Linked DNA regions of Homo sapiens: all the other regions are linked to region 2. The links come from fine-mapping of genetic effects on gene expression. A gene starts in region 2. Each other region holds a variant in brackets. All regions are shown on one strand. Distances are between the middles of the regions. Region 1 overlaps OSBPL8 (oxysterol binding protein like 8). Region 2 holds the start of BBS10 (Bardet-Biedl syndrome 10). Region 3 overlaps OSBPL8 (oxysterol binding protein like 8). Region 4 has its middle 32 kb from the start of LNCOG.

The links. PIP is the estimated chance that this variant, and not a neighbour inherited with it, causes the effect.
Region 1: its variant is the best candidate, but not a certain one, in a credible set for the expression of BBS10 in prefrontal cortex (BrainSeq, PIP 0.73).
Region 3: its variant is the best candidate, but not a certain one, in a credible set for the expression of BBS10 in whole blood (GTEx, PIP 0.87).
Region 4: its variant is the best candidate, but not a certain one, in a credible set for the expression of BBS10 in putamen (GTEx, PIP 0.70).

What each region holds. Positions count from the first base shown.
Region 1 is chr12:76,496,061-76,504,406 of GRCh38, forward strand. The region is part of intron 1 of OSBPL8 (oxysterol binding protein like 8); the gene reads right to left. Among named protein-coding and RNA genes, the nearest start is that of OSBPL8, 60 kb to the right of the region's middle. The variant G/C (reference allele first, on the strand shown) is at 5,094.
Region 2 is chr12:76,345,202-76,353,544 of GRCh38, forward strand. It overlaps BBS10 (Bardet-Biedl syndrome 10), which reads right to left and starts at 3,214. Exons shown (of 2, transcript NM_024685.4): 1 at 2,961-3,214; 2 at 1-2,586. The coding sequence starts at 3,157. The coding sequence ends at 612. OSBPL8 (oxysterol binding protein like 8) reads right to left here. Exons shown (of 24, transcript NM_020841.5): 24 at 6,596-8,343. RefSeq lists enhancers at 2,520-3,469, 3,470-4,419, 3,566-3,615.
Region 3 is chr12:76,526,445-76,534,790 of GRCh38, forward strand. The region is part of intron 1 of OSBPL8 (oxysterol binding protein like 8); the gene reads right to left. Among named protein-coding and RNA genes, the nearest start is that of OSBPL8, 29 kb to the right of the region's middle. RefSeq lists an enhancer at 4,552-5,280. The variant G/A (reference allele first, on the strand shown) is at 4,160.
Region 4 is chr12:76,223,736-76,232,081 of GRCh38, forward strand. No RefSeq gene overlaps it. Among named protein-coding and RNA genes, the nearest start is that of LNCOG, 32 kb to the right of the region's middle. The variant A/G (reference allele first, on the strand shown) is at 3,769.

The DNA of each region.
Region 1 (8,346 bases), 150 kb after region 2:
CATTTTATTCCTTAGCCCATCCACTGACTTTTAACTTTCGTCTTTTTTTAACGACACATTCTTATTCCCCAATTACACATTAGTCTCTTCTTGTTTCATGTCTGTAGTATTTTTTTTTTTGAATCTTTCTAACTACACAGGAATTTAAGTGCTCTGCTGTTTGGTGTTCTTCCGTCCAGGGAATCCTCTCTGTTTCCTCTGAAGTCATTTGTTACTTCTTCTTGACCCTTCCCCTTCTGTGCTGTTGGTTTTCCTCAAGTATCTGGTGATCCTGAGTTGTCTAACATGTTGATGAATAAATGCTGTGTAATTTTTTTTTTTTTTTTGACAGTGTCTTGGTTATGCTGTTGCCCAGGCTAGAGTGCAGTGGCACAATCACAGCTCACTACAACCTCAACCACCTGGGTGCAAGCAATCTTCTCACCCCAGCCTCCTGAATAGCTGAGACCACAGCAGGCATGCACCACCAGACCTGGCTAATACATTTTTTTTTTTTTGAGACAGAGTTTCGCTCTTGTTGCCCAGGCTGGAGTGCAATGGCAGGATCTCAGCTCACTGCAACCTCCGCTTTCCAGGTTCAAGTGATTCTCCTGCCTCAGCCTCCCAAGTAGCTGGGATTACAGGAACCTGCCACCACGCCCAGCTAATATTTTGTATTTTTAGTAGAGATGGGGTTTCACCATGTTGGCCAGGCTGGCCTCGAACTCCTGACCTCAGGTGATCCACCCGCCTCAACCTCCCAAAGTATTAGGATTACAGGTGTGAGCCACCGTGCGTGGCCTTGGCTAATATTTTTAACTTGTGTAGAGATGTGGTGTCACTCTGTTGCTCAGGCTGGTCTTGAACTCCTGGCCTCAATCCTCTCACTTCAGCCTCCCAAAGTGCTGGGATTACAGACATGAGCCACCACGCCTGGCCCCATCCTTCATTTTTAACAGACAGTATGAATACTGAGGCTTTAATACCCTTAAGTGTTTGTACCTGATAAAAGAGACTCGGTTATGTACATTTCAGTGATGTGTTCCCACATTCCACAATACATGAACTAAGTAAGGAAATATTTTTATCAAAATTTTTTTAACTAAAGGGAGATAGATATTGCAGTGTATCTGTATAGCTTAGGAATCAGCAAATTTTTTTTTTTTTTTTGTAAAGGGCCACACAGCAAACAGATTTTACTTTCGACTTTGCAGATGATAGGATTTCTATTGCAACTACTTAGTTCTGATGTTGTAGCATGAAAGCAACCATAGAAAAATGAATAAACAAAATGAGTCTGATAAACTGTATTTACAAAAATAGGAGTAGAGCATACTTTGGTGATTCCTGGTGTAGTGTTTCAGGTTAACATCGCGTGTAAATAGCACAATTGTATGCATAATAAAGGAATCTTTCCTGGTGACCCCAAATCTTGCCCTCACAGTTTTTCTCCTTTGTTTAGCTCCACTTAGACCTACACCTAAACCCTAAAAGTAGCTTCTTTGCTCAGCATGTGTCTCACTACTAACTTTATCACTTTCTGAAGCAGTATGTTCCCTGTATGTTTTAATATTAGCTTCTTCTGAATTCTTCTCTACGTGGTTTTTATACTTCTGTCCAAACAACTTTTTTCTGAGTTTTGGTGCCCTTAAAGCCTAGGCAGCTTATGTAAGGGCTTAAGTGCATAAGGTCCTTTTTTACTGTACCTTTGTAACATGAGGCAAAAGAAGTATAGCTAAGACAGGAGTTTCTTTTGATTCTCTAATAACAGAAGAGACTCTTATATAACACTTCTCTCCATAACTTGTACAAGCAGTAGTGTGTTAGGATTGGGCATTTTTATATCAAAAATATTAACTAAGGAACACATGAATTTATATAGATTGTTTTTGTTGAACACTTTCAACACTTTTCAACACAAAGCAACTGTTTTTGTGTGAACATTTTCCTTATCATTCCATTTTAAGGATATGGATGCATTTTCAGTGACTAGCATGTGATAAATGCCCAATAAATGTTTGTTAGTCAATGAATGGCATATAGATATTTCTCAGGCAAATGATTTTTTAAAAATCAGTATTTGGGCTGGGCACAGTGGCTCACACCTGTAACCCTAGCACTTTGGGAGGCCCAGGCGGGCGGATCACCTGAGGTCATAAGTTCGAGACCAGCCTGGCCAACATGGCGAAACCCTGTCTACGTATATAAAGAAGAGGTCACACAATGTCAGGAAACTGGCTCTGATTCCTGATTCTGGTCCTTTTTCTAGCCAATATTTTAAAAAATCAAAAACTGTACATAACAGTATTAATTTAGGGTTTGTCTTGAAACTATGGATGCAACACTTAAGCAATGACTGATTAGAGCTGAGTAGCAGCCATCCACTTTACAAGGTGCAAGCACGCACCTCTCACACCATGTTTGCATCTGTACTTTCACTGTTTCACTCATTTTTGCTACCTGTCCAGGTTGTGTAAGTATTTGAGTCCTGACAACTGATTTAAAGTATCTATACAAGAATCCTTTTTAAAACAAAGAAATGTTCAAATGCTTTGAACGCAGACATTTTATAAGCTCTCATTTGAATTTCTTCTCTATCAGGTACCATCCTTTCTGTGACTAAGTTTTCTATCTATGCTTTTGAGCTAATCCCTCTGGCACTTAGTGGTAATAAAAGCCTCCCCACTTTTTTTTTTTTTTTTTTTTTTGAGACAGGGTCACCCAGAATGGAGTGCAGTGGTGCCATCACATCTCCCTGCAGCCTTGACCTCCCAGGCTCAGGTGATCATCTCACCTCAACCTCCAGACTAGCTGGGACTACAGGCACACACCACCATGCCCAGCTACGTTTATTGTTTTTTGTCTTTTATAAAGATGAAGTTTCACCATTGGGATGGTTAACACTGAGTGTCAACTTGATTGGATTGAAGGATGCAAAGTACTGATCCTGGGTGTTTCTGTGAGGGTGTTGCCAAAGGAGATTAACATTTCAGTCAGTGGACTGGGAAAGGCAGACCCACCCTTAATCTGGTGGGCATAATCTAATCATCCACCATCGAATATAAGGCAGGCAGGAAAACGTGAAAGGGGAGACTGGCCTAGCCTCCCAACCTACGTCTTTCTCCAGTGCTGGATGCTTCCTGCCCTCAAACATTGGACTCCCAAGTTCTTCAGTTTTGAGACTCAGGCTGGCTATCCTTGCTCCTCAGCCTGCAGACAGCCTGTTGTGGGACCTTGTGATCATGTAAGTTAATACTTAATAAACTCTATCTATCTATCTATCTATCTATCTATCTATCTATCTATCTATCATCTATCTATCTATCTAATCTATCTAATCTATCTATATCCTATTAGTTCTGTCCCTCTAGAGAACCCTAATACAGCCATGTTGCCCAGGCTGGTCTTGAATCCCTAGGCTCAAGCGATCAAGCGATCCTTCCACCTCGACCTCCCAAAGAGCTGGGATTACAGGCATGAACCAAAGTGCCCAGCCCAGTAAAAGCCTTTACTTCAATATCAATTTGTCAGCCAGGTACAGTAGCTCATGCCTGTAATCCCAGCACTTCAGGAGGCTGAGGTGGGCAGATCACCAGAGGTCAGGAGTTTGAGACCAGCCTGGCCAAAATGTTGAAACCTCGTCTCTACTAAAAATACAAAAATTAGCCGGGCATGGTGGCTAATCCCTGCTGTAATCCCAGCTACTCGGGAGGCTGAAGTAGGAGAATCACTTGGACCCGGGAGCGGAGGTTGCAGCAGGCAGAAATCACACCACTGCACTCCAGCCTGGGTGGCAAAGCGAGACTCCATCTCAAAAAAAAAAAAATTTGTCCTGTTAGTCCTTCCATTGCCCATAATGCTCAAGTTTCCCTTACTCTCAATAAGGCCCTTTTCTGTTCTAGTTGCCTCAAAGCTACCCTCCAATGATCCTTTACCTGCCCTGGAAGATTTCTTAAGAGTGTTCAAGCATTCATTTCCTCTATCTTTGCCCCTGCCTTCACGCCTACATATTATATCAGTTTTATACCTAGTTTTATAATCTAATGCACAGAAGTGATCATGTCGACTTAATATCAAAAACTTCAGCTGTGCTTATTAAAGATTTAAGTCCAAATCTTGCCTTGGCATTGGAGGGTAACAATTATTTTGCTTATACTTGCCTTTCTCAGTTATTGCTTGCTTTCTCTGACCCTTTGTGTCAGCCAAATTGAGTTATTTGCTATTCTGCATATACACCAGTGCCTTCATAGATCCTATTCTTATGACTTCATATTTCCATGCCTTTGCCTGCATTCTTCCTTCTAGAAAATATTTCTCTTGCAAAACCAAACCCAACCCACCCAGTGAAGTCCAAGTCATATATTACCTTCTTCACGAAGGCTTCCTTGATTTCCCCTAACTAGAAGTATTCTCTTGATTCTTGAACTTCCAAAGTTCATATATCACTTAATACTATTTAAGTTTTTAAAATTTGTTTATATAAATTTGTTAAAATTGCATATGTTCCTATCTTCCCTATAAGATTATATTTTTAACAATAATGGATTACAACATATTCATTTTATACTTTCCCCAATACTTTTATAGTTTCTTGCCCTGAATGAGTGGAGCCCATCAGTTTTAAAGTACAAATCTTCCTTCAAGGACTACATGCTGAAGAATTTAAAGATTTTCCTTCTTTTTTCTTTTTTTTCTTTTTTCTTATGACCAGGGTAAGAGAAAAAAAGAATTTCTTAAAAGTATAGATGTTAGAAACAAGCCTCTGCTTTTACAGGTGATCATAAAAACTGATTACCCAGGGGCCACATATATGTTTGGAACCATGTTTTACTCAGTCCTCACAAAGTCTGGCAAAGTCATTCTGCTAACGTTTGAATTTACTGACATATAAGCAGTTCAGTTACTACTGTGTACTTAACCACTTCAAAAATGCCCTTTTATCTGCCAGGTCCTAGTAGGCATCTGAGTTTGTGCCAGTAACTTTGGTTAATAAACTTATAAAATATTAGGTGATTTGTAATTATTTATTGAGTAATTGTATGTGTGTGTATCTTTACACACACACACACACACATAGACACATATACATAAGTGTGTGTTTTTATAATACCTTT[G/C]GGTGCTTTATTCATGTTTTCTTAGATTTAAATCCCAATTTATAATTAAAATAAATGCAGTGCCTTCCTCAACCCTCATTATCTGGAAATGTGGATTCCTTCCCAATACAATTTTCACTTAAATGAATCTTGCATTTTTTAACATGTAAGCTGGGGGTCAGCAAACTATAGCACACAATGTAAGAATGGTTTTTATGTTTTTAAAGGGCTATAAAGAAGAAGGAAAATAGAAGGGAGAGGGGAGAGAAGAAAAGGAGAATATGTAACAGAGACAATATGTAGTCCACAAAGCCTGAAATATTTACTATCTGGGCCTTTATAGTGAAGATATTTGTGTCCCATGTGAATGCTCACCAACAGGTGATCTTAGCAGAGAGGTATTTTAATGATCAAGGAAATAGGAGAGCCCATTCTGTGATACTAGTCAGCCTCTTTCTCCAGCCACTGCTGTCATTCCACAGTGGGCTCATGAACAAAGTAGCCATGGTGACAGGGATGGAGGTTATGCATGGCTCAGCAACATGGACTTCCACTCACCAAAGCTGACCTGGCTAGAGCCACCGCTGAGTGCCCAACTGACCAGCGGTAGAGATCAACACCAAGTCCTCAATACAGCATCACTGTGGAGGGTCATTAGCTAGTTGCCCAGTGGCAGGTAGATTACGTTGAGCTGCTTCCATCACGAAGGGGCAGCATTTTGTTCCTACTTGAATAAATTTCTCTTCCCTCCATGCAATGCTTCTGCCTGAACTAACATCCATAGACTTAGAGTGCCTCATCTACCATAATAGTAATACATACAGCATTGCTTTGGAAGAAGAAACTCATTTCACAGCAAATGTAGTACAGCAATGAATCCATGCTCAGGGAATCCACTGGCCTTACCATGTTCCCCAACATCATGAAGTAACTGGTTTGACAGAACAGTGGGGTGGCATTTTGAAAACTCAATTGTAGCATCAGCTATGGAGCAATTCATACATGGATCGCCAGAAGGCTGTATATGCTCTGGGTCAATATGCAACATACAGTGCATTTTCTCCTATAGCCAAGGTGCATGGCTCTGAGAATGAGAGGGAGGAATGGAAGTGACATCATCCACTATTACCCCTATTGATCCACTAATACAATTTTTGCATCCTGTCCCCATAACCCTACGCTTTGCCAGTCTGGAGGTCTTAATCCAAAGAGAGGAATGCCTTCACCAGGAGACACAGCAATGATTCCACTGAACTCGAAGTTAAGACTGCCATTTGGCCACTTGAAGGTCCCCATGCCTCTGAATCAGCAGGCAAAGAAGGGGGTTTACTAGGCTGGCTGAGGTGAGCGATCCTAATTACCATGGAGAAACTGGACTGCTACTCTACAATAGAGGTATGGGAAAGTATGTCTGAAATACAGGAGCTATTTCAGATACGATGGGATATTTCAGATACGATGGGATAATATGATGGGATATCTTTTAGTACTGCATGTTCGGTGATTAAAGTCAACAGAAAATCACAACAATCCAATCTAGACAGGACTAGTAATCGCCTAGACTCTTCAGGAATGAAACTTTGGGTCATCCTACCAGGTCAAAAGCCATGACCAGTTGAGGTACTTGCTGAGGGTAAATGAATACAGAAGGGATAGTGGAAGAAGGTAGTTATAAATACCTGCTACAATTACGTGATCAGTTACAGAGACAAAAATTGTAATTTCTGGGATTATTACTTCCTTATTGTTTTATGAATACAGTTGTGTATCAAATATCTTTGTTTTCTTTCCTCTCTTATTGCTTTATCATATAAGATATAATGACTTTATTTCATAGCATTTAAGTATTGTTAACTCTACATTACAGTATTTCAGTTACAGAATAACAAGAAAAATGAACATCACCCAAGGACTTTACATTCTCTTTGGGGAAAAAGTACATTTTACGCAAGACAGTTGTACCGTTGGGTGGAAGCATGACTTTGTTATTGTCTTTGTTTGGAGATTAACTATTGTATTAATTTTCTAGCGTTGCCATAATAAAATACGACAAACTGGGGGTAGCTTAAACAACAGAACATTATTTCCTCATAGGTCTGGAGGCTAGATGTCCAAGATCAAGGTTTCAGCAGGTTTAGTTTCTTCAGAGACCTTTCTCCTTAGCTTGAGATGGCCATTTTCTCCCAGAGATTTCACATGGTCTTCCCTCTGTACGTGTCTGTATCCAAATTTCCTCTTCTTATAAGGAGACCTGTCATACTGAATTCGGGTCCACCCTAGTGACCTCATTTTAACTTAACTATCTCATTAAAGACCCTGTCTCCAAATACTGTCACATTCTGAGGTGCTGGAAGTTCAAACTTCAATATGCATTTTAATGGGATACAATTCAGCTTATAACAAGTATGTTTTTTTTTATTTTTGAGACGGAGTCTCGCTTCTGCCACCCAGGCTGGAGTGCAGTGGCGCGATCTCGGCTCACTGCAAGCTCCGCCTCCTGGGTTCACGCCATCCTCCTGCCTCAGCCTCCCGAGTAGCTGGGACTACAGGTGCCCGCCACCATGCCCGGCTAATTTTTTTTTTTGTATTTTTAGTAGAGACTGGGTTTCACCGTGCTAGCTAGGATGGTTTCGATCTCCTGACCTCGTGATCCACCTGCCTCGGCCTCCCAAACTGCTGGGATTACAGGCATAAGCCACCGCGCCTGGCCTATAACAAGTATGTTTTTAAAGAGATATGGTGGGTGCCAATGTAACAAGGCATAGACTATAATGGTTCATTTTATGTGTCAATTTGGCTAAGCTATGAGACTCAGTTGTTTGGTTAAACATCAGTATAGATGTTGCTGTGAAGACTTTTTTTTTTAGATGTGTTTAACATTTAGATCAGTAGACTTTGAGTAAAGCAGGTTACCCTCAATATGTGGGTGGATCTCATCCAACCACTTAAAGGCCAAAAAAAAAAAAAAAACCTGAGGTCCTAAAAAGAAATTCTGCCTCCAGACTGCCTTCAGACTCAAGACTGCAACATCAGCAATTTGGTGGGTTTCCAGCCTGTTGACCTACCCTGCAAATTTCATACTTGCTAGTCCCCATTTTGTGTGTGTATGTGTGTGTGTCCCCACATACTGTTGGTACTGTTTTTCTAGAGTACCCTGACTAATCCAATATATATGTATATATTCATATCTTATCAATATAGGTATAAATAAATTTATTTTATCATTCATTCTGTGCTCTCCTCTGTATCATAGAAGCTAAAAGCACGGAAACTA
Region 2 (8,343 bases):
CCAAGTTTTCCAAATGAAGTGGCAGTAAACCAATGACCACATAAAAGTAAAAATTAATTTTATGCTTTTTGAAAAAAAATTTGAGCCTTTTACTCACTGCTAATTTAATTTTATGCTTTTTGAAAAAAATAATTTGAGCCTTTTACTCAGCTTTACAAAGTATGAGTAGGGAAAATTAATGCAAATAATGTATTCAATATTAAAAACAATTAGAATAAGCCCACCCAAATCAGAGATTAAATGATTCTATGAACTAAACATGTAACGATGAAGGAGGGCTGGAGTGAAAAAGATACAGGAGAGTAAAAAGGAGCTATAAAGAAAAACCCTCCCCTAAACACATAGGCTAACACAGAGCTGAGACACAGAGGCATAAAATAGGGAAAAAACAGACACACTTAGCCAAATCTTGGCTTCCCCTCTAGATTTGTTCCATAAAGTAATTTAATATTTGTATCTGGTCTGGTGACCTTAGTGTGCTTCTTCTAAAGACTTTTAAAGTTACGCTATTTTCCTAAGTAGACTGAACTGACTTTAGAACCAGTGGTCACATGACTGCTTTACTTGGCTTGAGTTAGATGAAAAGTTTGGTTAATTAAAAACTTCTGATGTTATAGTTCATCTTCTGAATCTTGATTGTGAACTTTCTGAGGGTGTCTCTTAACAGTGATTACCATGTCAATGGTTAATATTTTTGTCAAACACTGAAGAACTGAAGTTAGTAGCTGGTATTTACCCATTACTGATTCCAAACCTGTCTGACTGCTTACCAAGGGTTGATTGGTTTGCAGTGCATGGACAGCTCTTATATATGTATGTGGAAAGCTGTACTTTCCTGTTTTAGATTTATAAAGGACTTTGGGAATGCCTAAAAGTGCATTAGCTATTATCATACTAACCATGGTTTCTTCTGATTGATGGCATTTTTTGGCATAATTGAGAAGATAGTAATGTAACAAGATCTCAAAATTACCACCTACTGGCAAAACACAACCAGCTGGCATAGATGAGGAAAGGTAACTCTGGGAAGTACCCATATTCGGTAACTTACAGCTCACTGGTAACATGCTTCCCTTTCTAGTAATATTTGTGACCTGTAAATTTTCGTAAGAAATTTCTATTCTATTTCCCCTTGTTGAATAAGCAGTGGAATTGTTCTTGAGTAATGGTTCATAATAATCAGTTAGCCTGTTTCTTTCCAAAGACAAACATGTCAGCGTTTCAACTGTTTGGAATGTATCTGTTGGTGTCAGTGTGGGGGTTGAATACGGAATATATGTTTCTAATTCTACATCTGGAATTACCAAATTAGAATGTACTTTTAAATATGTTTGAGTTTTTTCCAATGCATCTTTGTTCTCTGCAACTGTGTCCTGATAAGGCCTTTGTATTGAGCCATTACCAGGATCTGGTGCTTGATAACTTTCTCCACTGTTCTTATAAATAAAAAGACTTGAAGTGCCATTTTGGTCATTGGTTTGTGTCATGTAATTTAGATCAAGGTCTTTAAATAATTGCCGAAGCATTTTAAGTGCTCCATGTAAAGCATCCTCATGTTGTTCAATGAGACCATGCACTGGTCCACAAAGAACTATAGAGTGTGGTATAAATGCACATGTGCTTATCAAGCCTAGATGAACATATCTTTTGGATCTAAGGATAAGAGGTTTACAAAATTTCACCAAAGCAGTGTTAGGTATTTCACACTGCGAAAAGGCCTGTGGTGGTACAAATGGAGAAAGACCAATGATCCTCCGGATAAGAGAAACTTCTTCTGATGATAAACACTCAACCACTGATATGCCATTCACCCCTGCATAATAACTAACTAAATCTGGTTGTTTCACACTAGATATGAGCAATTTTACATTCTGACTATGTAGATGTTTCATTATTGCTTTTGTCTTTTCCATAATCCAAAATTGAGATGTCTGAAACTGTGCTTCTGAATTTAGAATAAACTCTGATCCAGAAGTGGAAAAAAGAGGCTGAATGGTTTCTGTTACTATCACCATTCGCATGTCACCATCTGCTGGGCGGTACACAGAAAAATCTTTCTGAAGCACAAGACCAGCTATGATCCTGGAATCTGAAACAGGAAGGCCAGTGACACCAACATTCAACTCTACAAAATGGTCATCCACTAACTCAAATACACCAATCCCACTTTTACAAGTCATACACTTGAAAAAGTAGTCACACATCAACTGTGAAATAAATTTATGATTATTTCTTCCCACTCTTCCACAAAAGTATGCTTCTAAGAGCAACTCTAAAGAGCTCCTACACAATGTTCTCTCTTTAGCAGACGAAAAGATAGACAAAAAGTGTCTACTTAGGTACTGGTCCATAATACCGTCTAATATTTGTGTCTGAAACGTTAGGAGAGCCTGGGAAATAAATTTCCACCGAGAACAATTTTTCCAATGCCTTCCATGGGTTTGAATGTTTTCACACATCAAAGGATCCTTTTCTCTGTCTGTGATTGCATGAAGTCCTCTAAGCAAATGGCAAAGAAAGATAATAAATGTTTTTGCACCATCTCCTGTTTTTTTGAGATGACTGGAAACACAGTCCACTATCATCCTGTACAAAAAAGAAATAAAGCAACTCATTTTCAGAAGGCTGGCTTCCCACATCTTAAAACCATGTTTACACAGCCATAAGCATAAAATGAGAATATTGTTCCTTGGATACATCCTTAGTTTTTTCCTTTCTTGGAAAAAACTCTGCTCTATTCCAAGATTCCACCGTTGGGTGGAGTGGGGAGAAGTGGTCTTGAGAATTGGTAAGATTTGGGGTGCAGGAGTGTTCCCTTGGGCAGGGCTCTAATTCCGAGCATACAGCGGTTTCACCCGAGGTCAGTCTTTCTAAGTACGCATCGCCTCAGGATGGGACAAGAGCTCCACAGAGGCTGCCTGGGGTGCCCGGCTACGGGTTAGCGTGTGGGACGCGGGTACCTGGCTATGGGATGCTCTAAGTGTAGCGCCTCCAGGAGGCGGCCTCCATTCCGGCTGAGAAGCACCTCGCCAGTGGGCTTCGTACACAAAACTTGCCGTCCCTCGGGCCCCACGCAGCAGCTCACGATGGCTTCCAGCACCTCGGCCACCTGCAACGCCGCCTTCACAGACCCTGCAGCGGCCATAGAACTTAACATATCTGGGCCGCTTCCCCTTTTTGACCAGCTTGCAGAACACCCGGGCCGACCGAAAACAGGGGTGGGAACGGCCGGAAACGGAATAGGCGGGGAGAAAACCCGGAAGCCAGGAGTCGAAGCCGGGGTAGCACGGCTTCTTGGTTGGGCGAGAGGGCTGCCCTTCTGTCCGCCTGGTGGAAAAGCCCTGCAGCTTTGCCAGGTGGGGTGAGCTGGCCCGTTGTACGCGAAGGCAGAAAAAACAGACTAGGATTTCCAGCAGCTGTGCCTGGAGCGGCAACCCTAAGCCCCTCCCCGGCTCCCTAGGTGAATTCATCTCCCTCCAGTGGCGTCCGCTGCCCCCAAATCCCTTAGTCTCCCGAGAAACTTTCTTCCTAAGTCAACACGGTAGTGGGGCCTGCGTGAAGGAGAGGGCACCCCGGTTGGAACTCTGCTGGCTTTCATCCCCTGCCAGAAGCTGCTTTTTCCGGGGCAAAACCTCTGCCTTGGATTCACGCATGTTCCTGTCCACATTCCCCACGAGTTGCTCTCCTTACCATAACGGAAATAATTTGTAGATGCAGGACAGGTGAGGAGAGCCTGGCCACAGCCATGAATTGCAGGCTTTATGTCTGCTGCAGAGGCTTTACCACATTTCCTAGACTCAGGTATCACAATAAAACTCTAGACACCACAAATATATTAAGCAGAAATGATGCGAAGTCTCTATTTTTTGAGATGGACTCCCGCTCTGTCGCCCAGGCTGGAGTGCAGTGGCGCAATCTCGGCTGACTGCAACCTCCGCCTCCCGGGCTCAAGCGATTCCCGTGCCTCAGCCTCTCAAGTAGCTGGGATTACAGGCATACGCCACTGTGCCCCGCCAATATTTGTATTTTTAGTAGAGATGGGGATGTCACCATGTTGACCAGGCTGGTCTCGAACTCATGACCTGAATGATCCACCTGCCACGGCCTTTCAGAGTGTTGGGATTACAGGCATGAGCCGCTGTGCAGATTTAAATCCATTAATCACGTCGGTGATCAACAGTATGCTTTAAAACACATGGCCAAGGATTATTGTATATAACCCAAAGACAGAAAATACTGTCTCTTATAACATTTTTTTTGTTTTTTAAGAGATGAAGTTTCACTCTGCCGCCCAGGCTGGAGTGCAGTGGCGAGATCATAGCTTACTGCAGCTCCGCATTCCTGAGCTCGTGATCCTCCTGTCTTAGCCTTCAAGTCGCTTTGTGCCTCACTACGCCTGGTTATTTTCTCTTTTAGTAGAGACAGGGTCTCCCTGTGTTGCCCAGGCTGATCTTGAATTCCTGGCCTCAAGTGATCCTCCCAACTTGGCCTTCCAAAGTTTTAGGATTACAGGCATGAGCCACCTTGCCTGGCCTAAAACACAGGCACTTGAGAGCATGGGCTTTGGATTCAGACCTGGATTTGCTCTGTCATTTCCTTACCTGTGGCATTCACCAAGTAACCTCTTTGATCTCTGCTTTTCTCATCTTTAAAAACAATGGGCCTGCCGCAGTGGCTCATGGCTGTAATTCCAGGACTTTGGGAGGCCGAGGTGGGAGATCACAGGAGGCCGAGAGTTCAAGACCAGCATGGCCAACATAGCAAAATCCCGTCTCTACTAAAAATACAAAAATTAGCTGGGCATGGTGGTGCATGCTTGTAATCCCAGCTACTCTGGAGGCTGAGGTATGAGAATAATTTGAACTCGGGAAGGGAGGTTGCAGTGAGCCAAGATTGCACCACTGCACTCCAGCCTGGGCGACAGAGCGAGACCTTGTCTCAAAACAAAACAATCCCCGCCAAAAAAACCAGTGGAGATAACATATACAAAATAAAAATCTCAAGAGGTTTTGAGTAGGTGGAGAATGTTCACTAAACACTTTGCATAGTGCCTGGCATAGTTAGCACTCAACAGATATTTATATTACACCTGTTAGAGGAAAAGGGTCCCAATCCAGACCCCAAGAGAGGGTTCTTGGATCTCATGCAAGAAAGAATTCAGGACGAGTCCATAAAGTGAAAGCAAGTTTATTAAGAAAGAGGAATAAAAGAATGGTTACTCCATAGGCAAAGCAGCCCCAAGGGCTGCTGGTTGCCGATTTTTATGGTTATTTCTTGATGATATGCTAAACAAGGAGTGGATTATTTATGCCTCCCCTCTTTAGGCCATATAGGGTAACTTCCTGACATTGCCATGGCATTTGTAAACTGTCTTTGGTGCTGGTGGGAGTATAGCAGTGAGGACAACCAGAGGTCACTCTCGTGGCCATCTTGGTTTTGGTGGGTTTTGGCTGGCTTCTTTACTGCAACCTGTTTTATCAGCAAGGTCTTTATGACCTGTATCTTGTGCCAACCTCCTATCTCATCCTGTGACTTAGAATGCCTTAATCATCTGGGAATGCAGCCTAGATCTTAGCCTCATTTTACCCAGCTCCTATTCAAGATGGAGTTGCTCTGGTTCAGATGCCTCTGACGCACCCACCAAATTACTGGAGTTGCTCTGGTTCAGATGCCTCTGACGCACCCACCAAATTACTGTGGTAGGTCACCACTCTCCTGGTTTATTATTCCCACAAGTGATATTTTGTGAGATGCAGAAGATTCAACTAGCATAATGGCACAACATACATCATCTAGAGTCGAAGCATGCCAGTATTAGCAAGAAAATGATCTTGTAGATGTTTCACGAGGTTGGACAATGAGGGGCCGTTTTCCTTAATCCTTATTGCTATGAACAAGATAGGAGGAACCGGCAGGCCCTCCCATCTTTTTCTCCCCAATTAATAAAACCAAACCAAATGACAGCCAGAAGCAACTGGACCCTGAGCAGAGAGCAAGAATGGGAAGAAAGGAGGGTGGGGGAAAACCAGAGAGGAATGATGTCTCGGAACTCATCTGATGTTGACTCAGTATGGACTAATAGGTGATCTGAGGGGGGAAAAAAAAACCCTTTCATATGGATTTCGTATATGTTTAATAGTAGGGTTTTTTTGTGGTGCTACTCATAACAAAGGGGTTACATTACTCAATATAGATTCAAGCAGTGGATTATATTCCTGACATTTAGAAGTGAAGTGCTATTAGAGTTCTATTTAAGTGTACCACGGAGATACAGATTCAAACTTGTGCTTTTACTCTTAAAGTAAGAGTCGGCTACCACTCTTACTCCGCAGCTTTTGGAGACTTTCAACCTCTCTGAGCCTCAGCATCTTCATGTATAAAATCTGGCTAACGTCCACCTAAGGTTCTCATAGAGGATTCGAGAAGAATGAATATAAGGCACCAAGCAAAGCATACTTCAGGGATTCTCACTGTTGAATCCCTTTCAAGCCCTTTGCCATCCTTTGCAGCTATCCCTATCCCCACAAAAGGGGGGATTAAAACAAATTAGCAATAATTTAGTCATCATATTGTATTAAAAGTCACTTGATCACCGTTTGCTCTTTTTAAAAATTTTATTTAGAAGCCTACTTGTAGAAGTTAGCATAATTTTACAGATTATTAGAAAAATTCTTTTCTTTCTGCAAACAGTTATAATAGGTTAGGAATAATAGATTAGAAATGTACTACATTACAAAACAGTGGCCTATAACTATCTGTACATTTACTGTGCACCTTAAGGAAAAGAATTTGACAGTGTGCTGTACTTACACTGCAGGTAACATATTTTTATTCTATCACACAAAACTGACCAGTGGTAGTGCTTGAATTTATGAATGGCCATTAAACAGAACATTTAAACTCAGATGTATATTTAGCATGCTAAAAAGTGAAAAAAATTTCAACTGAAGTTCTGTGGCTCATCAGTTCAAATGTTTCATGGCATTTTTTTTCTTTAAGTGAAAAATTTTGATACTGTAAAACAGTTTTACATAATAAATGCAAAAAGATAACATTTTCTAAATTTTTAGAAAGAATATTCACATTCATTTTGTCATGGGTTTCACGTGGCTCTTCTAAATATATTAATCATATTAATAAGACACTGGTCCTATACAATTTCAACAGTCCATCTTCAATTAAAAACTAACAAAAATAAACAGTATGTAAAGAGTAACAAAAAGTAAATTAAATATACTAAACTCACACAACAGGTAGAATAAAATGAAACCAAATTACATAATGGCAGGTTATACATTTTAAAGAATCTCTTTCCACTTAGTCAAATAAGATAGAAATTGAAATGTAAACTTACTGATTTCTGTGGGATTTTCCCCACTGGTTCAAATTGGAAAATTTGATATAAATCTAATATTTTATTTCTGTACATTTAATATGATTCAATATAATCTGCAGTCTCATGTATGGCTTATCAATAATGCCATCATCACTGTATGTCAAACAACCTCACTGCTTACTAGAAATGCTAAACACTGGAAAAAATGGAATTTTATACATTTGTTTTCTTAAATTTTGACAGATATTCTTCAGAAAGTTAAAACTGCCTTCCACAAAATTTTGTGTGTATATGGCACAAGGTGACAGCCAAAAAGTGTGATTCCATCGAAAAGGCACTGTTAACAATACTCAGAATAATCTGACAAGTCTACATCAATGTCTGAGTAAAGAATAGGTAAATAGACAAACCCCTATAAAAGATAGTATTATTGTTTAAATATACTATAGCTATATAAAAAGAAAGTAACACACAGAAATGACCCTTTTATGACAAGCCTATAAACACCTTGAATCACATTATAGTTCTGTAACACAAAAAATGACAAAAAATATTTTCTTAAAGGCACAAAAGCATGAATATTAAATGAGAGTTGTATTTTACAAGGCCAACTTTTCAATGGAATGCGGTTACCAACTGAGCTGTGACAAAGAGTACACTGTACCTTTATAAGTGATATAAAACAAAAAAGTACTAACATGAAATACAAATAAAATATCTATTGCTGTAACTTAACATTTCACATGCCCTATTTATTGTTGTTGTTTTTTTTTTTTTTTTACATGTCCTGGGCCAGCTACATTTTACTAAATGGTGGATGATGGCATAGTACATTTAACAGCTAAAAAGAAAATGCACATGTGAATAATTATTACTCAATTAAATTTTCATGTAGGAAAATAAAATCTTGGTAAATGAAAAAAACTGGTCATAAGGTCATAAATCCTAGAAACCCTCATGAGGCTCTCAGACAACTGGGAACCGTTTACGGTCCATGTGTGAAGGAA
Region 3 (8,346 bases), 180 kb after region 2:
TGCTATGCACTACTAGTATACAGTTACTTAATTTTTTTTTACTGGCCTTTAACTTTGATTAGCCTCAACTAATAAAATCCATGAATTTACTGGCTTAAGTCAAAAGCTGCATATTTTCTAATATATAATATATAACTGTAAAAATTACACGAGGAGATACACAAATGTTATACTTGCTATCAGTAAATCTCTTTTTTTTTTTTTTTTTTTTTTTTTTTTTTTTTGAGACAGGGTCTCACTCTGTCACCTGGGCTGGAGTGCAATGGTGCGATCTCGGCTCACCACAACCTCCGCCTCCCGGGTTCCAGCAACTCTCCTGTCTCAGTCTCTCAAGTAGCTGGGATTACAGGCGTGCACCACCATGCCCAGCTAATTTTTGTATTTTTAGTAGAGACAGGGTTTCACCATGTTGGCCAGGCTGGTCTCGAACTCCTGACCTCAGGTGATCCACCGTCTCAGCCTCCCAAAATGCTGGGATTACAGGTGTGAGCCACCATGCCTGGCCAGTAAATCTCATTTTTAAGTCCAGAGCTCTATTGAGAACTAAGTGTGAACCACTTTACACCTCTGGACCTCAGTTTCCTCATAAGTAAAATTATGAGGCTAAAATGTCAATTACTGACACTCATTAAAATTCTAATATTCTACAATCTAACAGCCAGCAGTTTTACCTGCTGTCTATATATTGCTGACATAATCACTGCAATGCAAAAGAATGTAAGGTATACGGTACCACCTCAACTTTAAGGTCCATATTAGGACCTGTCTTTAGAGTAATAAATTAAGGAGGGTGGTGGGCCGGGGTGGGGGGGGATTGTGCAACATGAGGCAACTTACAATAACTACAACCAATCAATAAAGTACATTAATTACAGTTTTCTAAGGTTTTTCAACTTCAATTAAAACCCTTTGATCCTACCTAATCAGGAAAAAGTCAGCTCTTCAAAAGAAAAATCAGTTCAAGTAGGAAACCAAAACAATATGTTAAACATTTTATTACAACTGAAATATACATATATCTCCAATCTTTTGATGGAAAGCCTTATCATCGAGTATAAATCTGTCAATTAGAATTACATATCTTCCTTGTTTAAACCACAGCTATAATACATGGGTCTGAGAGCTCTACGGGTAGTTCTTTAAAGTGAAGCAAAATTTAAAACATTTGTAAAGCCATCAGTTTGGAGAATCCTACATGTTCCAATTACTTTCCTACCTTTTCTAGTTATCGAATTATCTTATCCATACCAAGACAGGCCCAGGGAAATGCCTACAAAAAACATTGAGTTGCAATACAGAAGAGTCCTGAGCTTAGGGAACCCAAATATTTTATAATGGACAGCAAGAATGCCTGCCTTTTCTTTTCCTAAGGAGGAAAATACTATCATTATCTTCCAAGGCTGCTCACTAGATAAACATTCTTGAAAAGGTAGTCTAGAGTAACAGGCAGTCAGTGCTTTACTTGCAAGATATGCAGAAATGCAAGAAATCAATAAAGAGTTGTCTTCCAACTGTCTGTTTATCCCTGTCTACTTAACTGCTACCAAATACAACCCCCTGTAGCATTTTACCTTCTAATATATAAGCATTATTGTTGGCCAGGCACGGTGGCTCACACCTGTAATCCCAGCACTTTGGGAAGCCGAGGTGGGCGGATCACGAGGTCAGGAGTTCAAGACCAGCCTGACCAACATGGTGAAACTCTGTTTCTACTAAAAATACAAAAATTAGCTGGGCATGGTGGCACATGCCTGTAATCTCAGCTACCTGGGATGCTGAGGCAGGAGAATTGCTTGAACTGGGACCTGGGAGGCGGAGGCTGCAGTGAGCCAAGATCATGCCACTGTACTCCAGGCTGGGCTACATGCAGAACGAGACTCCGTCTCAAAAAAAAAAAAAAAAAAAGTATTATTATTAATAACAGAAGATGAAATCATGATTCACGAGCCATTTCTAAGAAACTTCACTCTTGTAAATAAGAGTTAGTTTTGATTACCAGAATTTTTTCTATGTGCTTTTAGACAATTTGAACAATCCTTTTATATTTTATATATAAATCATGCCTTGTCGAGTCCAGTCTTAATAACCAAATGCCTCTGCAATGAAGTTAGTCATCACCCAAAAAGCTTCAGAAATTAAATGAATCAAGTGAGTACTATAGAAAGGGTACATCCTAAAATAAAAGATAGTTGTCACAAGCCAAAGAAGATAAGGAAGTGTAACAGAATCACACACACACACACACCCACACAACGATATAGCTATAGTATTAGCTATAGCTATAGCTACAGACAGCTACTAGGGAAGGCTGAGGTGGGACAATCACTTGAGCCCAGAAGGCAGAGGTTGCAGTGAGCTATAATGGCGCCACTACACTGCAGCCTGGACAACAGAGGGAGACCCTGTCTCAAAAAAATAAAAATAAAAATAAGTAAAGTATAGCAACTTTAAAATTTCATCAAATTTTTCACTTCTCCCAACCTCCTCTCAAGCTATAACACAATCTTATGCCAGAATTAACCAAGGATACCAAAGTCCAAAACAGGGGTAGTGTGGTCTACCTCTGAAAAAGCAGTATGAAGTTATTATGTCACTACTTCATTTCAATCTTAGTTTTGTTTTGTTTTTTTTTAACTATGACAAAGCTAAAATATCATTATGAATTTCAAATGTGAGAAACATTAAGGATTCTAAGCTGTTTCTTATACTAAGGGCTTCTGCTTAGGAACAACAATTATTTAAAGCATTATGAACTAACAATCAGAAACTGAACTAGGATATTAAGGTGCACACTATAAGGAAAATACAAGATAATGCTAAAACTTCAGAAAAATAAATTTAAGAAAACTGGAATCCTTGCTATTTTTCCCTTCTTGGGCACTTGTTACTATCCCCTTCCAAAAACAAATCAGTTGGTGAGTGGATTTGTAGAAACCTAATCAAAGCTTAGAAGGTATGTCAGATTACGAAACCCAGCTGAAACCTTTTGAGCCTCTAAACCATGAAGCAACTAACCATTTGTACTTGCCTTAGAATAGCAGTGTCATGCCAGCTCTGGATTACCTACCTGCTACTACCAAACAGAAAAAAAAAAAAAAAAATTCTTATTTAAGCCACTGTTCATTTGGCTTTCTATTAAAACAGTAGATCTGTATCTGAATACATCGTTGAAACCCTTTCTGTGAAAAACTGAAGAAGCTAGTGGGGGAAGAAGACTCGAGATAAGAATAGGCTCATTATTCAAAGGCCAGCATGGCTAAAGCATAGTAAGCAATGAGGAGAACTATCTGAGATAAGGCTCTAGAGACAGTAGAGTCTGGATTTTATTCACTGTGAAAGAGGAAACCAATGAAAAGCCTATGCAAGGCAGGAACATGATCCACTTTATACTCGAAGACACATTACTAGTTGCTTTAAATGCATTATTACATAATGTAGTCATCACATAAACCCTATAAAGCAAGTAATTTTTCACTATAGCCCCATTTTCAAAATGAAGACACTAAGGCTCAGAGTAGTGAAGTAACATGCTGATTGCTCATTCTGCACCATCCACAAAAGCCTCTATGATATGATATTCCTTTAACATGTCAAGCAGATTTCCACATTTTTTTTCTTTTCTTTTTAGACACAGGGTCTCATTCTGTTGCCCAGTCAGGAGTGTGGTGGCAAGATCATAGTTCACTATAATCTCAAACTATTGGAAACAAGGGATCCTCAGCCTTACTCAGCCTCCCAAGTAGTAAGAACTATAGGCACGTGCCACCGGGCCTGGCTTTTTTTTTTTTTTTTTTTTTGTAGAAAAGTCTCACTATGTTGCCAAGGCTGGTTTTGAACTCCTGGCCTCAAGCAATCCTCCCTCCTCAGCCATCCAAAGTCCTAGGATTACAGCTGTGAGCCACCACACCCAGCCACCACAAGGTTTTTGTATCTGCTGTTCTTTGCCTAAAACACTCTTCCTTATGGTTCACTCTCTCACTTCTTGCAGGTTTCTTTGTTTAAATGCCATTTTATCAAATAGATCTTCCCTGACCATCCTAGCTACAAATAGCAAAATAGCAACTTGCCTCCTCCCATTCTTTTATTCATCTTTTTACCAACTACTTTTTTTTCCAAGACACTTAACACCTGACACACACATTTGTTTATATCCCCACAT[G/A]TAAGTATAGTATATTATATCCCCAAATAGAAGCGCTCCATAAGCAGTTTGTTTTGTTCAGTGAGGTATTCCCAACACCTAGAAGAGTGCCTATCACAGGAGGTGCCTATCACAGTAGGTGCTCCTTAGACACTTAAGAATTGTGGACTGGCAGAGATAAGGAGCTAACTTTATCATCAAGCAAACAGACTCTTTATAGTATAATAAAGCAATAAAGGCATGAAGGCTTAATTCACTTCCCTGAAGACATAACTAACAAAGGAGTATTAGACTGAAGATCTTCCACTTCCAGAAACAACATAAGTTCTCATCAATGAACTACATAAATGAACCCAACTATAGACATAATAAATTGCCATCCCTATTATTTTTATTAAATGTTATAGTACCATTGTGTTAGTCCATTCTCACACTGCTATAAACAACTGCCCGAGACTGGGTGATTTATAAAAAGAGGTTTAACTGACTCACAGTTCCACATGGCTGAGAAGGCCTCAGGAAACTTACAATCATGGCAGAAGGCAAAGGGGAAGCAGGGACCTTCTTCACATGGTGGCAGGACAGAGAAGAGTGAGCAAGAGCAGGGAAAATTGCCTTATAAAACCACCAGAAGTGCTTTTTAAAGTCATTGTATCACCTTTTATCACTCACTTAGCATCATAAAACAAGCACAAAGAAAAACAAGTTGTGTTACTTAAGTGACACCATTCTCCTTTTCTTAGTTAGCTTCCAAGCAGATCAGCAATCTAAATTTGACTTTCAGTAATTCAATGGTAATAAAGTATTCCCTCCATCATTCAAGTTAGGTCCAACTCAGGTTATAAAAACTAGTCCCTTCAGACCAATTGCTTGTACATTTCTACAGGCACCTTTTTGGCAAACCCACATGGATTTTAAGAAATGGAGAATGAGGAGACAGGAAAATATTAATAAGATGTATCAAACTGTGACAATATGTGAAGAGTACTGTGTATATACAAACAGGAAACAATTGAAAGCCTTCAACATGTGTGGGTTGGGGGAGAGATAACTGAATTAACAGGCCATGTAGTAAAACTTAAAATCAAATCCAGTAGTCTTGAAGGTATAGTAATTGTTTAGTTTTGAAGGTATAGTAATTAAGTACTGCGCACTAAAAAAAACTGACCAAAAGGCCGGGTGCGGTGGCTCACGCCTGTAATCCCAGCACTTTGGGAAGCCGAGGCAGGCAGATCACGAGGTCAGGAGATCGAGACCATCCTGGCTAACACGGTGAAACCCCATCTCTACTAAATATACAAAAAATTAGCCAGGCATGGTGGTGGGCACCTGTAGTCCCAGCTACTCAGGCGGCTGAGGCAGGAGAATGGCGTGAACCCAGGAGGCGGAGCTTGCAGTGAGCCGAGATCGCGCCACTGCACTCCAGCCTGGGCAAGAGAGCAAGACTCCTTCTCAAAAAAAAAAAAAAAAAAAAACTGACCAAAAAATACACAGAAATTGACAAATCTGTTCCTTAAAATTTTTCTTTTCTAAACAAAAATTTTTGTTGTGGACTGTATCTGAGGCACTATATTCTCTAAGAAGAGAAAAAAAAACTGTACTCCTTCAGCTGAAATAACATTCTAATTTCTCTGATATTCACCCCCAATTAAACTAGGTGGTATCAGAAAATGAAAAGCACTTAATATATTTAAGAAAATACCATAGTGAAAAAAAATCACTATAAATTATCTATTTTAAGCAAAACTATTTGATGTTGCTCAAACAACATAGCAAAACTAGATCATTTCACTTTATTATTTGTTAAAAATCATCTCCCTTCGTCACACACTGAATCTATGAAGTAATTAATAATGAATACAATGAATGCTTATATGTATTAGGATCATGGCAAATCTATAAAGGCTGAAAGGCTTGGGTTCAGCCAATGAAGTTAATATTGTATTATAAGATTTCTAAAAATGTTATATCCACCTAGAAACTACGGCAGTATTGGATTTTTGTTTTAACCTGTCCGGACCCATTTCCCCTTCCTCTGTTAACATCCACCTTGATCTTCTTTTGGGAAAGGAACATCCCTCCTCCAACATATGCAATCTTGGTACTCCACGCTCTCCTAGCAAAAGGAGTGGACAAAAAAAAAAAGAGCCAGACCAATCAGTCCATGCCTGTCTCTCTCTCTCTGATAAATGTGAATCACAAGCAGAGTGATCACGTGAATGAAAAACAATCACAAAAAAAACTATCCTAATGGGGGCTCCACAAAGATTGTTGCTTTCTGCTCTCTAGATCCCTAAAGCTGTTCAAATGTCTACTATTTCTAAAACTCCATTTTTCATCTTGGAAGAAAATGAGCTTATCATCCTAGTAAATCATTTAAGTTACCCAAACCTTTCTATTACTTGAACCGAAAAACCCTAAATTGATATAGGTACTATTTAACACATTTGTAACCAAAATAGTCTACCTTTGAATAAGGAAATAAAATAAAAATTAACTTCAAAATATTTTTAAATGAATTTACAAAAGTAAAATCAATGTCAGACATAGAACATTTTAAAACACCATATATCCTATCATAAGAAAAAAATACAATAGCATAGTATTCATTTATGTGTTTCTTGCTAGGTTTTTAAACTCCATTACATAAGACCTATCCTATAACCATATGCAAGAACCAGGTTTTTTTTAAGACCAGGTTTTGATAATAATCATAAGGAGAAAAAAATGTTTACTCAGGAATGTAATCTCTTCTTCAATTTTCATTTGGATCCTACTACTCAAGGTGCCTTCTCTGGAGCTCCTGCTTCATTTCCTCTTACCCACTATCAAATGAAGGATTTGCGGTAAACTTCATGATTAGGACTAAGAAGAAAAACATTTCTAAAAATATCTATTTGAGCAGCTGACTGATGTTTCCATTTGTCTGACTGATCTTGCAATCCACTGAAGTCTTTATGAGGCAAACACAGGAGCAGACACAAACAAGTGATGACCAGCCCTCCAAAAGCACTTAACAACGATCAGTCTATATCAACAACTTAAAGGCGAGAAACTCAAGCGCTCAGAAATGAGATTATTAACCTCATCTCCACCTCATTACCTACCGGTTTTCCAAAATTCTAAGCTGTTATCAAGTGCAAAGCTTAGAAATGTCTTTCAAAGGACAAATGTGATTTCAGTAGGAAAAAAAATACATCTATATTCCTACTATAGCCTGGGACTTACTATTCATCAAAACAAGTTAATTCAAATGCATAACCAACATCTATAGTCATTTCCAGTAGGTGAGAAATGAGGCAAAATAAACAGAAGATAAAATCTCTATCTAGGAAAGCACACGATTTAATCGGAAAGACCAAAAATACACGTGAAATAAAACATTCATATATAATCAATATTATAATTGAATATGCTACATTTTACCTTTTCTCCTAATATTTTTACTGTAAACTAAAGTGGTTTAAGAAGGGGAAAATACCTGAGTGCTATTTTGAAACCAGGAACTGTATTCATTAATGAGATTTTTTAAATGTCCATTTATATGTAGTCAGAAACAAAATTAAATGCAATTTTTATCTAACATTTTTCTTCAATTCAACATGTTCCCAATTAACACACACTATAGTTTGGCAACTGCCATTACAGTACCTCAAATGTTCCTGCAAAAGACTGCTTCAGGCAAGGATAGGAATGTTTCTGTTAAAGAATGGGCGAAGAAGGAAAAGAAACACAATTTTAAATTGAAAAGTGTTACAATTTCATTTCCTGTCAAGTATCAGACGTGGTATTTAAACACAGGGCTTCTGGTACACACTTTTGTTGCTGCAACCCCAATTTACTGACCTTGTCAAAAATCATATACTATTGGAATCTAGAGTTGCTTACTACCAATAACGGGCTAAAGAAGAATACCAATTGCTGTCTAATTCCTTCCGACTAGCTGAAAGTACTTTGCTTCTTCCTTAATATATACAATATCTGCATTGGAAAATAACAAGCAGGAAGTCCCTGGTGGTGGCAACATCTTGGAAAGCAGAAACTCACAAAAAGAAACAAATGAAAAACAAAAATCAGCAACACATACACACAAGCAATGAGGTCAAGAGAGTAAACTATGCAAAGTTTTTTTACTATTTTCGAGATGATGTTGGTTTGGAAGATTTACACTACCTTCAAAACTTACAAAAACATTCAAAATAATGTGG
Region 4 (8,346 bases), 120 kb before region 2:
ACCTCCCCAAATGAATATCTAGGAATATTGATTACTAACACCCAAAGTTCATCTGTTTCATGTGTTTCCTGTGAAGAACATTCTTTTTATTTTTATTTTATTTTAGTTTTTGTTCATTTTGCTTTTTTGTTAGTCAATAATCTTAAATATGTGTAGAACACTATAATGGGCACCTGGGAAGATAAAAAATATATAGAAGACATAGTCTATAATGAGATTTTAAAAACCATTTACTTATCTGCATATCTTTTTATTCTTGAATAAACTTTTACAAGACAGATATAGCCCTATGATTATAACATTATAGTATGTTGGCACACACAAAAAATTGAGCTAACAGGAAATGATTGAGTTTTCACAAACATCAATGTTTTACTGTGCACACAAAGACACTGAGAAAGAAATATCTGGCCAAGAGAGAGGTGAGAAAAATCAGTGTTTAACATTGCAAAGGATTTGCAAATGTGCAAAAGTTTAAATTTTTGCAAATTAAAAACATGAGAACACAACCTGCTTAAAGTTTTCCTTACAAAAATTCCCTCATTTGAAATTCCCTTTCTTCATCTAAATTTTAGGCCAAAGGTAAAGTCATAATAGAAGACTATGGAAAGAAAAGCAGATACATATCATTTAGGAATAACAATATGGAGGGAAAAAAGTATAAAATGAAGCTTGAAGGTGGTTGGCATTTATTTTCCCTCATCTCTTAAAATGTTGAAGACATTGCATTCTATTTCAATATAATATATTTAGTGTATTAACATCTTCACCAATTACACTAAGCTATCTGACCTGACCTCTACTTAAGATAAATGCTTTTTTGGTGATTTCCTAATGTCATTACTATTATATACAACACAAAAAACAAATGTGGTAGTTATTCTTGATTGGATCCTAGATTTAAAAAACAGAACACAAAAAAAAAAACCTCAACAGGGCATTTTAAAGACAATGGAGAAGATTTGAACATTGGGTAGATATTAGATAATTTTATTATGTTAACGTAAAACTTCTTTGGTGTGATAATAGAATAGTGATTATAAAAAAGAATGTCCTTTCTCTTAGAAAACAATGGTGAAGTACTTGGAGATGGAGTCTCATGATGTCTGCAATACACTTTCAAGTGGCTCAGTTTTATTTATTTATTTACTTAGAGACAGGGTCTCGCTCTGTCACTCAGGCTGGAGTGCAGTGGCCCAACCATGGCTCACTGCAGCCTAGACCTCCCAAACTCAAGTGATCCTCCTGCCTCAGCCTCCTGAGTAGCTGGGACCACAGATGTGTGCCACCACACCCAGCTAATTTTTCAATTTTTTGTGGAGACAAGGTCTCACTATGTTGCCTAGGTTGGTCTCCAACTCCTAGGCTCAAGTGATCCTCCCACCTTGGGTCCCCACAGTGTTGAGATTATAGGCATGAGCCACTGCACCTGGCTAGGCTCAGCTTTAAAAAGAGGCACATTGCTGCACAGGCAGATAGGACGTAGATAGACAGATAGACAGACAGACAGAGAGAGAAAGCAAATGTGGCAAATGCTGACAATTATTGTATGCAATTAGCGTATCCAAGCCATCCTGTCCTAACTCTTGCCATGGTTGGGACACAAATGCAAATGAAGACTATTCAGCCACGTGCCTAAATACTTAAAGTTTTATAAGGCAAGTTAACAAAATAAAAAAAGATGTACTAACTGTTACTTTGACCGCATATCTTCATAATAACTTAGAAGCCAAGATCACATTTAAAATTTGCAAACTCCTATAAGATTTATGCTAGCACACAGCAATGCAAGGAGAGCCAGCCTCCAGTCATCTGGCCAGGAGCTGGGTTTCCCTTCTCCTCCTAGCCCTCGGTCCATCCTGCACATATGTGTGGACACCCCAGTTCATATGTTCAAACACCATCCATGCTACAGTTATCCACTCCCACTCCCACTCCCACAGTTGGTCCTTGGCCACCTTTTGGTCTAGGAGTGTGCATAGTGAATATGGTCTAACCTCAAGTAAGCAGACTCCAAAAAGATGAAAGTAGCAGGGATTCTGTACTCTAGGATATCTGAATCATGAAATAAAAATAATAAGGAGAGGTGGGAGATAGGCCCCAGATGGACATGCCCGTCAGCCAGAATATTCCCCAGCCCTTGGGGATGGGCAAGGCTGAGGACAAGCAAAGGAGATCTGTAAAGTGTGGGGCAGTACTGGATTTAGGTGAAGTGATATGGATTTTTGTTGAACGTATTCTTTCAATTTTTTTCCAGGTTTATTGAGGTATAATTGACAAATAAAAATTGTATATATTTAAGCATACAGTGTAATATTTTGATATATGTATATATTGTAAATGAGTACCACAATCAAGCTAATTACCTCACATTGTGTGTGTGTGTGTGTGTGTGTGTGTGTGTGTGTGTGGTGAGAACACTTAAGATCTACTCTTGAGGGCGTGGTGGCTCACGCCTGTAATTCTAGCACTTTGGGAGGCCAAGGCAGGTGGGTCCCTTGAGCCCAGGAGTTCCAAACCAGCTGGGCAACATGATGAAATCCTCTCTCTACAAAAATTAGCCACGTGGCATGTCTGTAGTCCTAGCTACTCAGGAGGCTGAGGTAGGAGGATCGCCTGAGCCGGGGTGGTCATAGCTGCAGCGAGCTGTGATGGCACCACTGCGCTATAGCCTGAGCGACAGAGCAGGACCCTGTCTAAAAAAAAAAGCATACAATGCAATATTATTTGCCATAGTCATCATGCTGTACATTAGAACTCCAGAACTTACTCATCTTAGAGCTGAAACTCTGTACTCTTTCACCAGCATCTCCCCATTTCCCCATCCCTCAGTGCCTGGCAACCACCATTCTGCTCTGCTTTTGTAAGTTTGATATTTTTAGATTCCATATATAAGTGAGATTACGCAGTATTTATTTTTCTTTCTGTGCCTGGTTTATTTCACTTAACGAAATGTCCTCCACATTCACCCATGTTGTCCTAAATGACAGGATTTCCTTCCTTTTTAAGGCTGACTCATATTTCATTGTATTATACACACACACACACACACACACACACACACACACACACACACACACATATATATATGCCACATTTTCTTCATTCATTCACAGATGGATGCTTAGCTTGATTTCAAATCTTGGTTATTGTAAATAATGCTGCAATAAACATAGAAGTGCAGATATCTCTTCAACACACTGATTTCATTTCCTTTGGATATGTACCCAGAAGTGAGATTGCTAGCTCATATGGTAATTCTATTTTAATTTTTTTGAGGAACTCCTGTACTATTTTCTATAATAGCTATACCAGTTTACATTTCCACTAACTGTATACAAGTATTCCCTTTTCTTCACATCCTTGCCAACACTTGTTATTTGATAATAGCCATTCTAACAGGTGTGAGGTAATATCTCATTGTGGTTTCGATTTGCATTCTCCTGATGATTAGTGATGATGAGCAGTTTTTCATATTCCCCTTGGCTATTTGTATGTCTTCTTTGGAGAAATCCCTATTCAGGTCTTTTGCCCATTTTTTAAACTAGTCATTTGTTTTCTTGCTTGTGGAGTTGTTTGAATGCCTTATATATTTTGGATATTAGCCCATTATCAGATATAGGGTTTGCAAATATTTTCTCCTATTTCATAGGTTATCTCTATTTTCTGTTGATTGCTTCCTTTGCTGTGCAGAAGCTTCTAAGTTTGATGCAATTTCATTTACCTAAAAATAGGTAAATTTACCTATTTTTGTTGTCTAGGATTTTG[A/G]GGTCATATCTGTATGGTTTTGTTCATATCATTGTCCAAACCAATATTCATATGCTTTTGTTCATATCATTGTCCAAACCAGTGTCAGCTTTCCACTCATGTTTTCTTCTAGTGGTTTTACCGTTTCAGGTCTTATGTTTAACTCTTTAATATATTTTGAGTTAATTTTTGCATGTGGTGTGAGATAAGTGTTCAATTTTATTTTTCTGCATGTAGATATTCAGTTTTCCCATGATCATTTATTGAAGAAGCTCTCTTTACCCCATTGTGTGTTCTTGGCACCTTCGTCAAAGATCAATTGACCACAAATATATGGATTTACTTCTGGGCTTTTTATTCTGTTTCATTGGTCTGGGTGTCTGTTTTTATTCCAGTACCATACTATTTTGATTGCTATAGCCTTGTAGTCTATTTTGAAATCAGGTGCTGTAATGTCTCTTGCTTCATTCTTCTTCCTCAAAATTCCTTTGACTATGAATTTTAGGATTGTTTTTTATATTTCTTTGGAAAATGCCATTAGAATTTTTATAGAGATTGGATTGAATCTGTATTATTTTAGGTAGAATGGATTTTTTAACAATATTAATTTTTCCAATCCATGATCATGGAATAGTCTTTCATTTATTTATGTCTTCTTCATTTTCATACATATTTTATAGTTTTCAGTGTACTGTCTTTCATTTTGGTTAAATTTATTTCTAAATGGTTTTGTTTGGTTGGTTGGATTTTGTCTTGAGACAGTCTTGTTCTGTCACCCAGGCTAGAGTGTAGTGGTGTGATCATAGCTCACTGCAGCCTTGAACTCCTAGCCTCAAGTAATCTTTTTGCCTCAGCCTTCCAATTAGCTGGGACTACAGGCAGGGTCTCTCTCTGTTGCCCAGGCTAGAGTGTAGTGGCACAAACATGGTTCGCTGCAGCCTGAACCTCCCAGGTTCAGGCAATCTTCCCTCCTCAGCTTCCTGAGTAGATGGGACTACAGGTGTGCACCACCATGCCCAGCAAATTTATTTTTATTTTTTGTAGAGATGAGGGTTTTACTATGTTGCCCAGGCTGGTCTTGAACTCCCAGACTCAAGCAATCCTCCCACTTCAGCCTTCCAAAGTGCTGGGATTATAGGCCTGGGGATTGTTTTCTTAATTTCTTTTTTGAATAGCTCTGGTTAGTGTACAGAAATGCAACTACTTTCTGTATGTTGATTTTGTATCCTGTAACTTTACTGATTTTGTTTATTCTAACAGGTTTTTTGATGGAGGAGTTTTCAGGGCTTTTTCTATATATATTATCAGGTTGTCAGCAAACAAAGACCATTTTGTTCTTTATTTCCAATTTGGATGTCTTTTTTTTTTTTTAATTGAATGGAAGTGCTGAAAGTGAACATCCTTGTCTTGTACCAGATCATAAAGAAAAGCTTCTAGATTTTTAACATTGGGTACAATATTAGTTGTGTGCTTGTCATATATGGTCTTTATTATGTTGAGGTATGTTCCTGCTACACCTAATTTGTTGATTTTTGTAATTTTTAAAAATTTTTATATAGAGACGGGGTTTCCCCATGTTGCCCAGGTTGGTCACGAACTCCCAGGCTCAAGTGATCCACCCACCTTGGCCTCCCAAAGTGCTAGGACTATAGGCGTGAGCCACCGCGCCCAGCCCCATAATTTGCTGAGATACTTTTATCACGAAAAGATGTTGAGTGCTCTCCAGTGGTTCTTCTCTATTGAGATGATAATAGGATTTTTATGCTTCATTCTGTTAACGTGGTATATCACATTTATTGATTTGTATCTTTGCATCCCAGGGATAAATCCCACTTGATTATGGTGTATGATGCTTTTTAATGTGCTGTTGAATTTGGTTTGCTAGTATTTTGTTGAGACTGTTCATCAGGGTTATTGATGTGTAATTTTCTTTTCTTGTATCTTTTTCTAGCTTTGGTATCAGGGTAATTCTGGCCTCATAACTTGACTGAAGTAATTCCTCATTTTCAATTTTTTGGAAAAGTTTGATAAAGAGTGGTGGTAACTGTTCTTTAAATGCTTGGTAGGGCCAGGCATAGTGGCTCGCACCTATAATTTCAGCTCTTTGGGAGGCCAAGGCAGGAGGATGGCTTGAGGCCAGGAGTTTCAACCCAGCCTGGGCAACATAGTAAGACCCTGTCTCTATAAAAATACATATATATATCTACTTTAAATTAATTAATTAATTAATTTTATTTATTTATTTATTTTTGAGATGGAGTCATGCTCTGTTGCCCAGGCTGGAGTGCAGTGATGGGATCTCGGCTCACTGCAAGCTCCACCTCCCTGGTTCAGGCCATTCTCCTGCCTCAGCCTCCTGAGTAGCTGGGACTACAGGTGCCCACCACCATGCCCGGCTAATTTTGTTTTATTTTTTTATTTTTAGTAGAGACGGGTTTTCACTGTGTTAGCCAGGATGGTTTCGATCTCTTGACCTCGTGATCTGCCCGCCTCGGCCTCCCAAAGTGCTGGGATTACAGGCGTGAGCCACTGTGCCCAGCCAAAAAATTAAGAAAATTGTTAAATACTTGATAGAATTAATCAGTGAAGCTATCAGGACCTGAGATTTTCTTTGTTGTGAGGGTTTTTGATTACTGATTCAATCTCGTTACTCGTTACTGGTCTGTTCAGATTTTTACTTTTTCATGATTTAGTCTTGGTAGGTTGTATGTTTCTAGGAATTTATTCAGTTCTCCTAGGTTATCCAATTTGTTCAAATATAATTGTTCAGAGTAGTTGCTTATGATCCTTTGTTTTTCAGGGGTATCAGTTGCAATGTTTTCTTTTATTTTTAATTTATTTGAGTCTTCTCTCTTTTTAATTAGTCTAGTGAAAGGTTTATTTATTTTATCTTCAAAGAAAACCAACTCTTAGTTATGTTTATCTTTTCTATTGTTTTCTAGTTTCTCATTTATTTCTGCTCTAATCTTTATTATTTCCTCCTTTCTGCTAACTTTGGTCTTAGTTTGTTCTTTTTTTAGTTTCTCTTGAGGTGTAAAGTTAGGTTGCTAATCTTAATGTAAGCATTAATTGTTATAAACTTCCTTCTTCAAAATACTTCTGTTGCATTCTTGGTATACAACTTTTGGTATGTTTTGTTTCTTTCATTTTTGTTTGCCTCAAGATTTGTTTGTTGTTGTTGTTGTTATTGTTTTGCTGTTGTTGTTGTTTGAGACAGGATCTCACTCTATCCCCCAGGCTGGAGATTAGTGCAGCCTTGACCTCCTAGGCTCAAGTGATCCTCCCACCTCAGCTTCCCTAGTAGCTGGAACTATAGGTGCACACCCCACAACACCCAGCTCATTTTTTTTCTTATTTTTTGTAGAGATGGAGTCTCAGTATGTTGCCAGGCTGGTCTGGAACTCCTGGGCTCGAGTGATCCTTCCACCTTGACCTCCCAAAGTGCTGGGATTACAGGAGTGAGCCATCGAGCCTGGCCTCAAGATAAATATTTTAATTTCTTCTTTTACTCACTGGATGTTCAAGAGTGTGTAGTTTAATTTCCATATATTTGTAAATTTTCAAATTTTCCTCCTGTTACTGATTTCTGGTTTTATACCATTGTGGTCAGAAATGATACTTAATATGATTTCAATCTTCTTAAAATTTGTTAAGATTTGTTTTGTGGCCTAACATATGATCTATCTTGGAGGATATTTCATTGTGCTTCAAAAGAATGTATATTCTGCTGCTGTTGGGTAGAACATTCTGTATATGTCTTTTAGGTCCATTTCGTCTACGTTGTTGTTCAAGTCTGCTGTTTCTTTACTGAGTTTCAGTCTGGATGATCTACCCATTGTTAAAAGTGGGGTATTAAAGTCCTCTACTATTATTGTATTTCTGTCTATTTCTCCCCTCCATTCTGTTAATATTTGCTTTCTATATTTAGGTGCTCCAATATTGAGTGTATACACCTTTATAATTATTTTATCTTCTTGATGAATTGACCACTTTATCATCGTATCATAACCGTCTTTCTCTGTTGTAATAGTTCTTGACTTAAAATCTATTTTGTTTAATATAAGCATAACAACCCTGCTATCTTTTGGTTACCATTTACATAGAATACCTTTTTCCATCCTTTCACTTTCACCCTATGTGTGTCCTTAAAGTTAAAGTGAGTCTGTTGTAGGCGTTATATCATTGAGTCTTGGTTTTTTATGTATTCATCCACCCTCTCTATCTTTTGCTTGAAGAATTTACTCCATTTACATTTAAAATAATTATTGATAGGTAAGGGCCTACTACCACTTTGTTAATTGATTTCTGCTATTTTGTTAATTGTTTTATAGTTCCTTTGCTCCTTTCTTCCTCTTGTGCTGTCTTCCTTTGTGATTTTTTTGAGTTTTTGCTGGAGTCCTTGGCTGGACTGGCCTGGTGCTTGGAGCTTGAGTCCTCTGAAGCGGGACTGGAGCTTGAATCCATGTGGTTGATCAGTGTGGAGCTTGGCACTACTGGTGCTAGTCTGGTGCCTAAGGCCTTGGGATCAGCATGGAGCCTGGGGCCATGGGGGCTGGCCTGGCACTGGGGCAGCTTGAAACCTGGGTATGCAGGGGCAGG